Linked DNA regions of Homo sapiens. The protein of the gene in region 1 purifies or fractionates together with the protein of each later gene. This does not show direct contact. Each region holds a gene or a part of one and is shown in the gene's direction. Other genes may lie near its edges.

What was found. The genes of interacting proteins can lie anywhere in the genome.
Region 2: the proteins of PHF20L1 (region 1) and CHD4 purify together in Homo sapiens (affinity purification with mass spectrometry; 2 studies listed by BioGRID and IntAct, with this or other methods). This does not show direct contact.
Region 3: the proteins of PHF20L1 (region 1) and MTA1 purify together in Homo sapiens (affinity purification with mass spectrometry; 2 studies listed by BioGRID and IntAct, with this or other methods). This does not show direct contact.
Region 4: the proteins of PHF20L1 (region 1) and KANSL1 purify together in Homo sapiens (affinity purification with mass spectrometry; 3 studies listed by BioGRID and IntAct, with this or other methods). This does not show direct contact.

The regions. Positions count from the first base shown.
Region 1 is NC_000008.11:132,812,274-132,817,701, forward strand, and holds part of PHF20L1 (PHD finger protein 20-like protein 1), read left to right. Parts: exon of another isoform or gene 1-917; intron 918-2,363; coding exon 2,364-2,616; intron 2,617-4,614; coding exon 4,615-4,803; intron 4,804-5,065; coding exon 5,066-5,272; intron 5,273-5,428.
Region 2 is NC_000012.12:6,576,380-6,579,879, reverse strand, and holds part of CHD4 (chromodomain-helicase-DNA-binding protein 4), read left to right. Parts: intron 1-962; coding exon 963-1,034; intron 1,035-1,158; exon of another isoform or gene 1,159-1,327; intron 1,328-1,333; coding exon 1,334-1,471; intron 1,472-1,742; coding exon 1,743-1,851; intron 1,852-1,962; coding exon 1,963-2,095; intron 2,096-3,500. UniProt on the Homo sapiens protein: ATP-dependent chromatin-remodeling factor that binds and distorts nucleosomal DNA. Acts as a component of the histone deacetylase NuRD complex which participates in the remodeling of chromatin.
Region 3 is NC_000014.9:105,457,827-105,461,326, forward strand, and holds part of MTA1 (metastasis-associated protein MTA1), read left to right. Parts: intron 1-443; coding exon 444-546; intron 547-2,531; coding exon 2,532-2,631; intron 2,632-2,938; coding exon 2,939-3,127; intron 3,128-3,500. UniProt on the Homo sapiens protein: Transcriptional coregulator which can act as both a transcriptional corepressor and coactivator. Acts as a component of the histone deacetylase NuRD complex which participates in the remodeling of chromatin.
Region 4 is NC_000017.11:46,036,430-46,039,929, reverse strand, and holds part of KANSL1 (KAT8 regulatory NSL complex subunit 1), read left to right. Parts: intron 1-45; coding exon 46-228; intron 229-714; coding exon 715-903; intron 904-1,243; coding exon 1,244-1,392; intron 1,393-3,500. UniProt on the Homo sapiens protein: Non-catalytic component of the NSL histone acetyltransferase complex, a multiprotein complex that mediates histone H4 acetylation at 'Lys-5'- and 'Lys-8' (H4K5ac and H4K8ac) at transcription start sites and promotes transcription initiation.

The DNA.
Region 1 (5,428 bases):
ATAAATCAGGGACTTGGGTAATAAAATGTTTCTGGAAAATTCATTACAATGTCAATCTTTGATTATGCACAATCCTGCTGAGGTGAATGTGATTGTGAAAAGTACTTATTAAATGTGGAAGTTAGTGTAGAGGGCAGTACCCGTCTTAGAGAGAAGTACAGAAAACCACGTTTTGAAATTGAATTTAAAAAAGAAAGGAAAATTGTGTAACTCGGCTGTTTCTATTTTCATAATTAAAAACTTTTGAGAGTCCTTGCCAGTTTTGTAACAAAGAGACCAACAATCATTAATGAAAACCTTGTAAATTATTTTAGATTTTCAGGAACACCATGCCATTCCCTCATTTTCTACTTGTCATTCAGGTTGATTTCAATGTGAAAATGTTTTGTGAACAAACACTTATTTTTATCCTATGTGTTAGCCTCGCTTCATAGTTAAAAAGCCGAGTTATAAAGCTCTTAATTACATCTCAATTGGTATCAGCAATAGACCTAAAGGAGAGGTATTGATTGTTACTAACCTCTGTTTCCTAATGAGTTAAAGTAATGTCACTCATGACATAGATTGATAACAGGCCTGTAGTCAAAACTTACTGTGCTAATGGACTTATTTATATTTTTTAAAAATTCAAACTGTGGTCTTGAACCCCAATTCTCAGCTTATTAATTATAGATTATTTAATTGTATTAGGGATATGTCATGTTATATTTACTTTTGGATAAAACTTGCATTAGATGCATAATAACTCAGTAAGTTTTAAAAACAATGTTAATTTTTCCTTGTTTAGAAGTTAAGCACCTTATCAAGATATTAAGTTTTAAAATCTTGTTTTATAACTTTGTAACTTGAGAGTAATGGATGCTGTAGTGATGTCTTTCACATATGTGAAGATGAACAATAAAATTGTTTATTTACAAGTAATGGCTCTAATTACTTTTCTGGCAACACCTTTTATAATAAGGTTAGGAATACTATCCATTTATGAAGTACCTTTTCAAATAATTAATCTGCACTTATACACATTTATAATGAGTAAATTCAATAATAGAAATGATGACAACTGAATGAATGGGACACTTGACACCAGGCCTTTTATGTGGTATGTCCAACATGCTGTCTATAGAGCATTGAAGGTGCCCTACTTAATACCAAATATGCACTTTTCTTCCCCAGCAAAATTTGACTTGTATCTCAGTGGGAACAGAATTATTTATTTATTTAGTCCCCAGAAAATGATCGTTCATATTCCAGAGAACTGCAGACAGCAGACCTGATAGTTATTCTCCACAAGATATGGAAGTAAAAAGATTTCTTGGGGACAAGCATGTTGTTTATAGTGCTAGCAGTCTGATTCTTTATAAAGGCCTATGGTAGAATAGATTTTCAAAAAATGCATATTATATATTTTGCTCTCAGATAAGTATATCAGAAAGAGATAGAAGTATTGCAGAACCATAGATTGCAAATTCATCCAATGTAGTTATTTTCTCTTGTTTTGAAAAATGGACACATTCACACATATTTTAACATATGTAGGAAATTTTACAGCCAAATGAATAAAAATGATCTTTTATGAAAGAACTGACAAAGTTCTAATTTTTTTTTAAAAGTATCAGTTGGCAGGAAGAAGGTAAAAACTCTCATCTAAGAATGCGACGTATTTTGTTTTTAAATCCAATGTTTTTAACTTACACTTTATCTCTTTGGTTTTTTTTTTGTTGTTGTTGCTTGTTTTGTATTGTTTTTTAGTCTTTTAACTCTATATTGCTGGTGGCTCTGATTTCATGATGCATTGTGCTTATGAAACTCTAGCTTTCAGCACTAAAATGAGTTAAAGATAATGTTTTGTTAATTTGGTCATTGTTTTTCCTGTTCAGATCTTTCTTTAAAGGGAATCTGTCTACTTAGACCTTTACATTCAACTTAAAAGAAAAGATTTTATAAGAAAACATCTAAAATCAAAAGCTTAAATGTATTCCTCTAATCCTTTAAAACATGAAAATGCTGTTTATTTTTCGAATTATTGTCATTGGCAATTATGGTTCCTAAAGGGGTATATTTCTATTTAATACTGAAAATATTTGTCCAGTAAGATAACATTTTATGTTCCGAAAATATTATGAATAATATATTTTAAAAAATGAATTTAGACTGAAAGTTGACAGCATCCCTTTAAAGACAGCCTATTCAACTTTTAGTTAATAATTTGTGGGGTTCTTTTTGGTTTTTCATTTGTAATAGAAATGTTATATGTTGCTTAACAATGTTTCTGGATACTAAAGTTGCTTAACAGTCAAAATAGAATACAAGAACAAAAATGAAGAAGCCAAAATAAAAATATCAATTTTTTATTATTTATTCAGGCGATTTCACCTAAACCTCAAAGTCAGAAAAAAAATGAAGCTGACATTAGCAGTTCTGCCAACACTCAGAAACCTGCACTGTTATCCTCAACTTTGTCTTCAGGGAAGGCTCGCAGCAAGAAATGCAAACATGAATCTGGAGATTCTTCTGGGTGTATAAAACCCCCTAAATCACCACTTTCCCCAGAATTAATACAAGTCGAGGATTTGACGCTTGTATCTCAGCTTTCTTCTTCAGTGATAAATAAAACTAGTGAGCACAGATTTTTAAAAAATAGTTATTTATCCTATAAGATACATTAAAAACAGTTTGATTGTAGTTATATTGTATTTTTATGAAGTTGCTTTTTAAAAACTCAAGTGGATATGATAGGGAAGGCTTGAAACTATTTCAGGGGCAAAAACCATAGACATTTCTTACTGATTTATTGCTTAGAGACTACTGCTGGTTGAGAATCCTTTCCATTTAATAACACAGATTCCACTGTAGTTTGACTCTCCTCAACTCATAATCCAAGCATACTGAGAGGCCTGATTCATTACAAAAAAAAAAAGTTATAAAAAGACCCAGGATAGCTATTTTTACTTAAGACTATTCCTGTAGATTTTTTGTCCCCACTTGTCTATAACTTTCCTCTGCAATACATTTTATTCATTCTTATTATAATATTTATAGTCTAGACTTCAGTTTAATCTTTTTAATGAAAAAAAAATGCCCCCATGATTGTATTTTTAAAGATTTTACTGTTTCAGTACTTCTAATTTTTCAAGAGTTAACGCAGTCTTTTTCGAAAACACCTTTCACATGGGTATATCTATCTATCTCCCTATATATCTGTATATATAAATAATACAAGATTTGTGTTGACCCTGAGTTTCTCATATTAGTTTAGTATCCTAAGTTGGAGACATGAATAACAGTTATTTGAAAAGTCAGTTGGTAAATGATGGTTTTTTTTGCTCTTTATGCAAAAAATGAAATACATGATCAGTTGAGTGAATATGACATGTTTCCTTATTCCATATTGTGTCTTCCAGAATAATCAAAGATGTTGGCATTCAGAAGACTTTTATCAAACTTATTAACCTATTTTCCTTCAGTTGCCATATTTTCTACTGAATCATTTTTTCATTTTGATCAGGTTTTGCTTTTTCTTTTTAATAGGTGGAAAGAATGGGAACATAATTCAATTGTTTTCCTAATAAGCTTCATTTCATTATGGCATTTATCATGAAATAGTGTCAGTAGTAGTCACTGGAATGTCATATGACATTAATAAACATTTTATTTTGGAAATTATATCTTGGTATTATAACCACAATATTATAGCAATTAAATTTTATTCTTTCATATTTTTAAGTTATCAGCATGTCTTTTTCGTTTTGATTGTAAAATTACTCTTAAATACCCAAACATCAATGTCTTTAGACTGTTCTTATTTCCTCTTTCTAAATTAACATGAATATATTGGCATATATAATCTTGCCTATTCTAGTCAAATGTGTTTGTATGCCATGTAGAAAGAAGATATCTAAAAGTGTGAGAGACATTTCCAAATATTTATATTATATTGCTAGAAGATGCCTAAATTACTTACCAAGTTGTTAAAAAACACAAGTACACAATGTCATAATCTTAAATATCCTCATTATTTGCTCACAATAAGTATACAAAGTTGTTTTTGTTCATTTTTTTTTTTTAATGAATCAGGCCCAGACATGTTTATAAAACTCCATTTGGGGGGGATGATGATGGGATAAAATTATTTACATTAGTGTAAAGTAAATCACTAACTCTATAATGTTGTATCATCTTTGTCCCTGCCTTTTTTTCCCTTAGAGTTTCTAGATTTGCAATGTAGCAAAAGGAATACATATATATATATTTTTCCTTATCTTTTGCTGTAAAGAGACTATTTTCCCGAAGGAAAAATGGCAATTTACACAACGATCTGCAATTAGAGAAATTAACTGTAGTCTGTCACTTGGGGGAGCTACTTGAAATTAATGTTCCATTTTATTTTCTTTTAGTTCTAGTAGAGTGTAGATTTTACAATTTTTGATTGACTCATTTTGAATGAGGGCACAATTTTTGCCTTTGATTACCTTTGGAACATGCCATTCCTTGTGGATATCTTATAACAACATCAGAGGGAAGAATATAAATCATTTTTTCCCATTTATCTCCTTAAATATTGTAAGATGCTCCTGGTATGTATCTGCTTCGTGAACATTGAAGATCTTTTTCTAGGTCCTCCACAGCCTGTGAATCCCCCTAGACCTTTCAAGCATAGTGAGCGGAGAAGAAGATCTCAGCGTTTAGCCACCTTACCCATGCCTGATGATTCTGTAGAAAAGGTTTCTTCTCCCTCTCCAGCCACTGATGGGAAAGTATTCTCCATCAGTTCTCAAAATCAGCAAGAATCTTCAGTACCAGAGGGTAATGTATATTGATTTCCTATAGAACCAAACATAAAAGAAGATAAAGAAAAAACTAAGAGATAAAGATTATTAAAATATTAAGATATTTCTGCTCTTATATCTTCTGGAGTTATAAGCACTTCACTTATTCTACAAATATTTATTGAGTGCCTTCTTTGTGCCAGGCACTGTTTAAATTATGTAACACTTTAATTCACAGTGATAGTAACTGAGCCATTTTATCTGTGTTAATATTACATTACACTCTTTATTTTGTGTAGTGCCTGATGTTGCACATTTGCCACTTGAGAAGCTGGGACCCTGTCTCCCTCTTGACTTAAGTCGTGGTTCAGAAGTTACAGCACCGGTAGCCTCAGATTCCTCTTACCGTAATGAATGTCCCAGGGCAGAAAAAGAGGATACACAGATGCTTCCAAATCCTTCTTCCAAAGCAATAGCTGATGGAAGAGGAGCTCCAGCAGCAGCAGGTAAAAGAAAAAAAATAAAGGCTCCTATAAGTAGATAAGTAGCTAGGCTTGCAGTTATTAGGTATAAACATTTTGAGGTTTAACTACATTATTTTGATTCCTATATAATTCCTTTTCATAAATACTTTAACATTTATAGGAGAGTTTCATCTCCGT
Region 2 (3,500 bases), on another chromosome or scaffold:
TTTCACCGTGTTAGCTAGGATGGTCTCCACCTCCTGACCTCGTGATCCGCCCGCTTTGGCCTCCCAAAGTGCGGGGATTACAGGCGTGAGCCACCACGCCTGGCCAAAATTTTTTTTTTTTTTTTTTTTGAGACGGAGTCTTACTCTGTCACCCAGGCTGGAGTGCAGTGGCACGATCTTGGCTCACTGCAACCTCCGCCTCCTGGGTTCAAGTGATTCTCCTGCCTCAGTCTGCTGAGTAGCCACCATGCCTGGCTAATTGTTTTTTTTGTTGTTGTTTTTTTTTTTTTTGAGATGGAGTCTTGCTCCGTCGCCCAGGCTGATGTGCAGTGCAGTGGTGTGATCTTGGCTCACTGCAACCTCCACCTCCTGGGTTCAAACAATTCTCCTGCCTCAGCCTCCTGAGTAGCTGGGATTACAGGCATGCGCCACCACGCCCGGCTAATTTTTGTATTTTAGTAGAGATGGGGTTTCACCATGTTGGCCAGGCTGGTCATGAACTCCTGACCTCAAGAGATCCACCCATCTCGGCCTCCCATAGTGCTGGGATTACAGGTGTGAGCCACCACGCCTGGCTAATTTTTGTACTTTTAGTAGAGACAGGGTTTCACCATGTTGGCCAGGCTGGTTTCTAACTCCTCACCTCAGGTGATCCACCCACCTTGGCCTCCCCAAGTGCTGGGATTACAGGCATGAGCCACCGCACCCAGCTAATTTTTGTATTTTTAATAGAGATTGGGGTTCACCTTGTTGGCCAGGCTGGTCTTGAACTCCTGACCTCAAGTGATCTGCCTGCTGCTGTCTCCCAAGATGCTGGGATTACAGGCATGAGCCACCATGCCCAGCTGACATTACTGTAATTGCAGACATTTAGATGTGGGTCTATCCAATTGGATAATAGTGTGCAACAGAGGAGAATGTTCTTCCTTTAGGTATAGTCTCAATAACATTTCTTCCCCTAGGTGCTGCTGATGTAGAGAAGGTGGAGGAAAAGTCAGCAATAGATCTGACCCCTATTGTGGTAGAAGACAAAGGTGGGTGTTTGGAGAAGTTGATTGTGGTTCAGAAGAACTCTAAAACCAGAAGCAAGGACTGTATCTGCCCTGCCTCCCTGTCCATACTCATCTAGCCATTTTATCCCAAGATAAAAGACTGTACCTGTCCCCACATTTAGTTGTCAGTGGGCCAATGGCACCATTTTCTGGGTCTGAGAGACACCCAGGTGGAGAAGGGGTGTAGGTGGATGGATTCTTGTAGCATACAGTGTTCTGGGTAAGGGCGATGGTGCTGGGCTTTGGCTGGAGCTGACATTTTTCTTCCCCATATTCTGTAGAAGAGAAGAAAGAAGAAGAAGAGAAAAAAGAGGTGATGCTTCAGAATGGAGAGACCCCCAAGGACCTGAATGATGAGAAACAGAAGAAAAATATTAAACAACGTTTCATGTTTAACATTGCAGATGGTGGTTTTACTGGTATGGAAATGAGGGGCCCACCAGGGTTAGAAGGATCTGATGTGAAATTGGGGTTCTTGTCAGAAACCACGGTACAGGGACTTTACCTCTTTACCTCTGTTTGATGAGGGAATGCCAAACTGATAGTGGGTTCTGTGGAGAAAGCCAGAAGCAAATTATATGAAATGGATCCAGGGGTAGGGGATGGTGGGGGACAAGAATAAGTAGCTTTTTCAATTCTCACAGATGTTTGCTTCCCCCCACCCCCAACCTTCCCTAAATTCCTCCTCAGAGTTGCACTCCCTTTGGCAGAATGAAGAGCGGGCAGCCACAGTTACCAAGAAGACTTATGAGATCTGGCATCGACGGCATGACTACTGGCTGCTAGCCGGCATTATAAAGTATCCTTTGCCTGAATCTGTACTGAGGCTTTTGGTGAAAGGTTCTGAAGGTCTTTTAGTTTGAGGTTCTTACTTTCCTTGTTTTGTTTTTCCTGAGCACTTTTCCAATAGCCATGGCTATGCCCGGTGGCAAGACATCCAGAATGACCCACGCTATGCCATCCTCAATGAGCCTTTCAAGGGTGAAATGAACCGTGGCAATTTCTTAGAGATCAAGAATAAATTTCTAGCTCGAAGGTTTAAGGTGAGCGGTTGGGGAGGAATATATTGCTTAAGTGACAAACTTGAAAGTGCGTAACGTCCTGCAGCAGAGGGAGTCTGTCCATCCAGCGCACTGTTCTCACTTTCTTCATTCTATGGAAGGCTTTGCTCCCAAGTAACTTACACATTAGGGTTGAAGACACACAGAATTGAAAGTTAACTAACTGTACATGAGCTGTAGGTGACTATGTGTCCAATCAGTGACACACTAGTGCAGAGGGGTTTGTTTGGGGAACACTGCAGATTGGAGTATTCAGGAAAGATATAGAGGTGGGATTGAATTGCATCTCTGAAGATGTAGAGCTATTAGTCAGTGGGCTGCTGGTTGTTTTTTTTTTTTTTTTTTTTTTGAGGCAGAATCTCTGTCGCCCAGGCTGGAATGCAGTGATGCAGCCTCTGCTCACTACAACCTCTGTGTCCTGGGTTTAAGTGATTCTCCCGCCTCAGCCTCCTGAGTAGCTGAGATTACAGGCGCCTGCCACCACACCCAGCTGTTTTTTTTGGATTTTTAGTAGAGATGGGGTTTCACCATGTTGGCTAGGCTGGTCTCAAACTCCTGACCTCGAAGTGATCCACCTGCCTTGGCCACCCAGATTGCTGGGATTATAGGCATGAGCCACCATGCCTGGCCTGGTTCTTTTTTCTGGGCTAAAAAGTGCCTGTGTGGGCCAGGTGCGGTGGCTCACGCCTGTAATCCCAGCACTTTGGGAGGCTGATGCAGGAGAATCGCTTGAAGTCGGGAGGTAGAGATTTCAGTGAGCTGAGATCGTGCTACGGCACTCCAGCCTGTGCAACAGAGTGAGACTCTGTCTCAAAAAAAAAAAAAGACGTGTCTGTTGTCTCGTACGCTGAGTATAATCGGGGAAGAAATGGTACACTAATAAGCCTTCAGGTATTATGTACTAAGCAATGATGTGCCCAGGGATAAAAAGACAAAGCATGGTATCTGTTTTCAAGGAGCTTTCAGTTTCAAGTAGGAGCACATGTGTAATCAAATGAATGCCATTCTGCATATCAGGAGAGAGATTGCTGATTGGCATAAGAAAGTTCTCCAGAATCGCTTGAACCCGGGAGGCGGAGGTTGCAGTGAGCCGAGATCGCACCACTGCACTCCAGTCTGGCGACAGAGCGAGACTCACCTCAAAAAAGACAAGAAAAGAAAGTTCTCAGAGAGGCAGACACAGTGGCTAATCTCAGCATTTAAAAGAGCTGATTGCTTGAGTCCAGGAGTTCAAGACTAGCTCGGGCAACATGGCAAAACCCCATGTCTACAAAAAATACAAAAATTAGCCAGTTCTGGTGGCGTGCACCTGTAGTTCCAGCTACTTAGGAGGCTGCAATGAGCCTAGATTGTGCCATTGCACTCCAGCCTAGGCATTGGAGTGAGA
Region 3 (3,500 bases), on another chromosome or scaffold:
AGGCAGGAGAATCGCTTGAACCTGGGAGGCGGAGGTTGTAGTGAGCCAAGATCGTACCACTGTATTCCAGCCTGGGCGACAGAGTGAGACTCCGTCTCAAAAAATAATAATAATAATAATAATAATATAAATAAATAAATAAAAAGGCTTGATTTAAATTTACAAACCAACCTTCCCATCTCTTGTGGCCACAGTTCTTGGAGCCCTGCATTCTGGGTGGGCTGGGAGGCCCCTTGCGTGTGCACCCCAGCCCCGGGTTGAGAGGCCACTGTGTGCCTGTGTGTGCAACAGCCTCCGTCCAGCCTTGCACCCTGGCCTCACCTATGGGGCCCTGCAGCCCTTCCCCCTCCCCGTCCCAGCAGCTCCCCGCACCCGGGGAGGAGAGGCGCGGCCCGGCGCGCCGTGGGACCCCGTCTCAGAAAGGCCACACTTCCTCCCTGTAGGCGAGGAGGATGGCCGAGACCAGTCCAGGTTGGAGACCCAGGTGTGGGAGGCGCACAACCCACTCACAGACAAGCAGATCGACCAGTTCCTGGTGGTGGCCCGGTGAGTCCTGCTCCTGGGCAAGGCCAGCAGGGGTGGTGCCTGGAGCTTCTGTTCTCCCTTCCCTGTGGTGGGTGTTGGGGACGTGACAGTCTTGGATCCCATATCCCAACAAGAAGCCCATGCGCTGCAGCCCTGAGACCCCCGGTAGCAGTTCCCAGAGAGGCTCGGGAGTGCTGGGTCCAGGCCCTTCATTAAATAGAAGGGCGGCCCTTCTGGGGGGCAGGCCTGTGTGCCTGCCCATGTGTCCCTAATGGGGCTTTCCCAGGATGGGCCAGAGGTGCTTTCCCACTCCTGGGCCACTGGGAGCAAGTGGGCTGGGCCTGGTCATGGAGCAGAGCAGCTGCAGCCCGGGCAGACCCCTGGGGCAGGGCGAAGGCCGAGGCCCAGGAGAGGACCATGCACCTTCCCTGCCAGCAGCCTGGGAGGTGGAGAAAACCCCAAAAGAAGCCCCAAGGCGGCTGCCAATCTATCGGGATGCCCTCAGTTAGACGCACACGGGTTCTGGGGTGGGTGCCGGGCCCTACTCCGCAGCCTGGGGCCCAGGACACGAGGAGTCCTCGCCACCTGCGGGCTGCTCCCTGCGATGCTCATGCAGTCTGTCCCTGGTCCCTGGCGCCTGGGGAGCTGTGTGCCTGGGGGGAGTCCGCGCTGCCCGTGGCCCCTGGTCCCTGGTCCCTGGGGAGCTGTGTGCCTGGGGGGAGTCCGTGCTGCCCATGGCCCCTGGTCCCTGGCACCTGGGGAGCTGTGTGCCTGGGGGGAGTCCGCGCTGCCCGTGGCCCCTGGTCCCTGGTCCCTAGGGAGCTGTGTGCCTGGGGGGAGTCCGTGCTGCCCATGGCCCCTGGTCCCTGGCGCCTGGGGAGCTGTGTGCCTGGGGGCAGTCCGTGCTGCCCATGGCCCCTGGTCCCTGGTCCCTGGGGAGCTGTGTGCCTGGGGGGAGTCCGTGCTGCCCGTGGCCCCTGGTCCCTGGTCCCTGGGGAGCTGTGTGCCTGGGGGGAGTCCGTGCTGCCCATGGCCCCTGGTCCCTGGCGCCTGGGGAGCTGTGTGCCTGGGGGGAGTCCGTGCTGCCCATGGCCCCTGGTCCCTGGTCCCTGGGGAGCTGTGTGCCTGGGGGGAGTCCGTGCTGCCCGTGGCCCCTGGTCCCTGGCGCCTGGGGAGCTGTGTGCCTGGGGGCAGTCCGTGCTGCCCATGGCCCCTGGTCCCTGGCACCTGGGGAGCTGTGTGCCTGGGGGGAGTCCGCGCTGCCCGTGGCCCCTGGTCCCTGGTCCCTGGGGAGCTGTGTGCCTGGGGGGAGTCCGTGCTGCCCATGGCCCCTGGTCCCTGGCGCCTGGGGAGCTGTGTGCCTGGGGGCAGTCCGTGCTGCCCATGGCCCCTGGTCCCTGGTCCCTGGGGAGCTGTGTGCCTGGGGGGAGTCCGTGCTGCCCGTGGCCCCTGGTCCCTGGTCCCTGGGGAGCTGTGTGCCTGGGGGGAGTCCGTGCTGCCCATGGCCCCTGGTCCCTGGCGCCTGGGGAGCTGTGTGCCTGGGGGGAGTCCGTGCTGCCCGTGGCCCCTGGTCCCTGGCGCCTGGGGAGCTGTGTGCCTGGGGGAAGTCCGTGCTGCCCATGGCCCCTGGTCCCTGGCACCTGGGGAGCTGTGTGCCTGGGGGAAGTCCGTGCTGCCCATGGCCCCTGGTCCCTGGCACCTGGGGAGCGGTGTGCGTGGGGGAAGTCCGTGCTGCCCATGGCCCCTGGTCCCTGGCACCTGGGGAGCTGTGTGCCTGGGGGAAGTCCGTGCTGCCCATGGCCCCTGGTCCCTGGCACCTGGGGAGTGGTGTGCCTGGGGGAAGTCCGTGCTGCCCATGGCCCCTGGTCCCTGGCACCTGGGGAGTGGTGTGCCTTGGGGGAGTCCGTGCTGCCCGTGGCCGCTGGTCCCTGGCGCCTGGGGAGCGGTGTGCCTGTGGGGAGTCCCTGCTTGGCCGACACTGTGGTCAGCGCATCTCCTTTCCCCAGCTCTGTGGGCACCTTCGCACGGGCCCTGGACTGCAGCAGCTCCGTCCGACAGCCCAGCCTGCACATGAGCGCCGCAGCTGCCTCCCGAGACATCACCCTGGTAAGTGGGCCCAGGGCGGGACAGGTGAGACCTGGGGTGGCCCATGGCCCAGAGTGGCTGCGCCCTTCTTCCTACCAGGGCCCAGCACCTGCCCCAGGTATTCAGGACCCCTGCAGAGGTGCTGTCCCACCTGGACTGGCCTTTCCTATCCACCCCAAACTCGGCCAGACTGTGCTGAGGGTGCAGGGAGGGTTGTGCTGCTGGGCCTGCAGTAGGGGATCCTTGAGGTACTGAGGGAGGGGGTACCGTGCCACAGGTGCAGGAAAAGCCACCTTGGCCCGGGTGACCCTGCTGTCTCCTGCCGCAGTTCCACGCCATGGATACTCTCCACAAGAACATCTACGACATCTCCAAGGCCATCTCGGCGCTGGTGCCGCAGGGCGGGCCCGTGCTCTGCAGGGACGAGATGGAGGAGTGGTCTGCATCAGAGGCCAACCTTTTCGAGGAAGCCCTGGAAAAATATGGGAAGGATTTCACGGACATTCAGCAAGATTTTGTGAGTACCGTGGGTGGCGATGGGGGAGTGGCTGGCCATGCCCATCTCCAGGTAGGCTGCGGGGGTGTGGGCTCCACATCCCACTCTGCCCTGAGGGAGCCTGTCCTGCACCCTGATTCCCTGTGCGGAGCTGCATGAGTTCTGTCTCAGCTGCGCTCGGCCGCCATAGTCCTTCCTGTCACACTGGTTCAGCAGACAGGCATGGGGGCGCTGGTGGGGCCTGGGCATAGAGAGCCATGCTCCTGCCACCATTGCGTGATGAGGATAAGGGTTGGCCCAGGTGACGGAGGCCAGGGTATCCTCACGGAGACTTTCCCTTCCTTGCTGCCCCCTCCAGCCCCAGGCTTGGTTTTGCTTTGTTTTTGACTAAGCT
Region 4 (3,500 bases), on another chromosome or scaffold:
GGCCAGGTGTTTGGACTAACCTGTAGCATTTTATGTTTCTTGCAGATGTTCCCACAAGCCTGCATTTCCAGAGCATGCTGAAATCTCAGTGGCAGAACAAGCCTTTTGACAAAATCAAACCTCCCAAAAAGTTATCGCTTAAGCACAGAGCACCCATGCCGGGCAGTCTGCCAGATTCAGCTCGTAAGGACAGGCACAAATTGGTCAGCTCCTTCCTAACAACAGCCAGTAAGTGTCAGGGAGCCGGGAAGTCCCCCAGAGTATCAGTGACTTTTCATTCCTTTTATATTCTCAAATTTGTAGTTTGCATGCATGTTGGGGTTGGGAGAGGCAGTTGACCGATAAAAAATTCAGCTCACAGTGACTGCTTCTGCTTGTCTTGGATGCTCTCAGATGGACTTCGGGAGCTATTCTAGACACCATGGATCTTGGAGCAAGACCCAAAATGCTCAGTGAACAGCCAGCAATGGCATGGCATTGAGTTCATCTACGGGCAGGTGTCTTCTGTATCCTGGTGACATGTTTCTCTGGTTCTGGGCTCCCTGTGCCTATCCTAGCCATTGTGCAAATTACTAGAAACTTCAGTCCTGAAGGACTGTCCTGCTGCCCTGGGTATACGGCGTTGGCCTAGAGAGAACTCGAGAGCTTGGAACTCGAATAAGAAAATATTTGAGAGGACATATTTCACAGCTCTTTTTCTGTTCCCCTCTTCAGAGCTGTCCCATCACCAAACCCGGCCTGACAGGACCCACAGGCAGCACTTAGACGATGTGGGGGCCGTGCCCATGGTGGAGCGAGTGACAGCGCCAAAAGCAGAGCGCTTGCTCAACCCACCACCACCCGTGCATGACCCAAACCACAGCAAAATGAGATTGCGAGACCATTCATCTGAGAGAAGTGAAGGTAGGGCCAGGCCCATGGCACCTCTACCTGCAACTGCACCTGCTCAGGGCTTTCTGGGGCAGCCTAGGCTTCTCTTAATTACCCCCAGCTTTGTCCTTCACTTTCTAGGAAAGCAGAGTAGAGGGACGCTACTGCTTCTAAATGGAGGTCACTTCTTAACTGCTACAGCAACCTCTGCCCTGCCCCTACTTCCCACAGCTAGTGTGCTTCACCTTTTTATCCTCTAGGCATAGAAAACATTTTTGCCTTTAGTATGTATTGCTGCCATTCCAAGCTTGTGTTAGAAGTAACGCTGGTTAAGATAGCCATGTATTTCTCTCTTTTCTGTTGACTTCTGCAGTGTTGAAGCATCACACAGACATGAGCAGTTCGAGCTACTTGGCAGCCACCCACCATCCTCCACACAGTCCCTTGGTGCGACAGCTCTCCACCTCCTCAGATTCCCCTGCACCCGCCAGCTCTAGCTCACAGGTTACAGCCAGCACATCGGTAAGTACCTGTGTGGGGTTGGCCGGACACCCCCTCTGCAGGTCACAGCTCACTCAAGTGGCTCCAGAGGACAGTGTGAGGGTGGGTTATAAAGCCCAGGGCATTTATAGGATCTCAGCTCATCATGACATATGTATGTATGTCTGTACCATTTTTAAGTCAAAGTCATGGTACTTGACCTTCTGTTGTTTTTCTTGAGTTGTTTTTCATAGCAGAGATGGATTTATGCTGAGCCATCCATAGAAAGCTTGATGCAGGGACAAACTCTTAAGGTGATCTGTGACTATTCAAGATCTGTTGGACTAAGTTTCACACAGGACTCAACAGTTCCGTGGCCCTAATCCTGTTGGCCCAAGAAGTGAACAAGAGAGGAGGGGTGGGTAGAGGGGAGATTCCCATGGGCGTTGGAAGCAGTGTTTGATTTCCTTGGTTTTACTCTCTGGGTGAGTGGAGGTGAAGTACTAAGAATAAACACTAGGCGTGAGGGTACCAGAAGAGAAGGGAAGGGAGAAGGCAGAGTCCATGCTTTTTAGGTATACAGAGCAGAATTACAGATCCAGCAGGCCCCCATGGCAGGACATTTGGCATGCACACACCAGATTTTACGATACCACACTCCATCTGGAAGCAGTTTGCACAGCTATTCCAGACACATTTCCTTTAATTTCATTCTAATATTTTAATTCCTCAAGTGTGCCCTCTTGGAACATACATACCTGTAGCTGCTATGGACCTACTCAAAGGGTCCTTTTTGTATAATAATTACAATGTAATGTAATGGTAAATGTAAAAGTCTGCAACTGTAATGTTTATTGAACACTTACTACATACCAGTGATCAGTGATTTACATGTGTTACATGTTATAATGCCTTTTGAGATGTAGGTTGGTACTGTGGATTTCATTTTATATGCATGAAAACTGTCAAGGCAACTTGTGAGGGTTATAATTATGATTCAAACTCAGGCAGCCTGACTGTAGAGCCAGCTCTTTTACCATTACACTACACAGGCTAAGCCTGGGTGAGGGTATTGCAGAGGCAACTTAGGAAGTTCCTTCAGAGCCTAGATCAGGAAACTTCCAAGCTCATAAAATGGACTCACTAGGCTCCTGTGATCAGGTAGGAATTCACATTGTTCTCTCTTTGCTGTTACAAATCAATCTTTTCCAAATGGTCTCTTTGCTCTTCGACTTTCTTTACCCCCGTAACCCACAAATTTTATCTAAATAGGTGTGTAGTGTCCCTCACATACTCAGTTATCCAGCAGCAAAGGGTTTCAGATAACCAAAGTATTTATAAAAAAGAGTCTAAACTAATTCTGATAGAAAATCTGAACTCAGAGATTCAGGACTTGGTGAGCACTTCAATATTTCTGTGTCTGGAGAATGTTAACTTAGGCCTGGATCACTTGAAATTTTTACCATTTATTGAGTAAAAATTTTGTGTATAGCACTATGCTAACCCCTGAGGCTCTCTCATTGCCAAGTTTTTTCAAAGACTCTGGATTTATGTAAAAGAAGATAGGCCAGGCACAGTGGCGCTCACCTATAATCCCAGCACTTGGGGAGGCGGCTGAGGCGGGTGGATCACTTGAGGTCAGGAGTTCGAGACCATCCTGGCCAATAAGGTGAAACCCTATCCCTACTAAAAATACAAAAATTAACTGGGCGTGGTGGCATGTGCCTATAGTTCCAGCTACTCTGAGGCAGGAGAATCACTTGAACTGGGAAGCGGAGGTTCCAGTGAGCGGAGATCAAGCCATTGCACTCAAGCCTGGGCGTCGCAGCAAGACTTCGTCTCAAAAAAAAAAAAAGAAAGAAGATAGGCCAGATAACAGCAGGCTCTCAGTATCTGCAGTATCTGCAGTGGGGATTGGTTCCAGGACCTCCCATAGATAGCAAAAGCTATTGTTGCTCATGTCCCTAATATAAAATGGCATAGTATTTGCATATAACCTATGTGTATGCTTTAAATCCCATATACTTTAAATCATCTCCAGATTACTGATAATACCTAATGCAATGTAAATGCTATAAAAATAGTATGCTGTATTGTTTAGAGAATAATGAAAAGAAAAATCTGTACCTTTTCAGTACAGACACAATTTT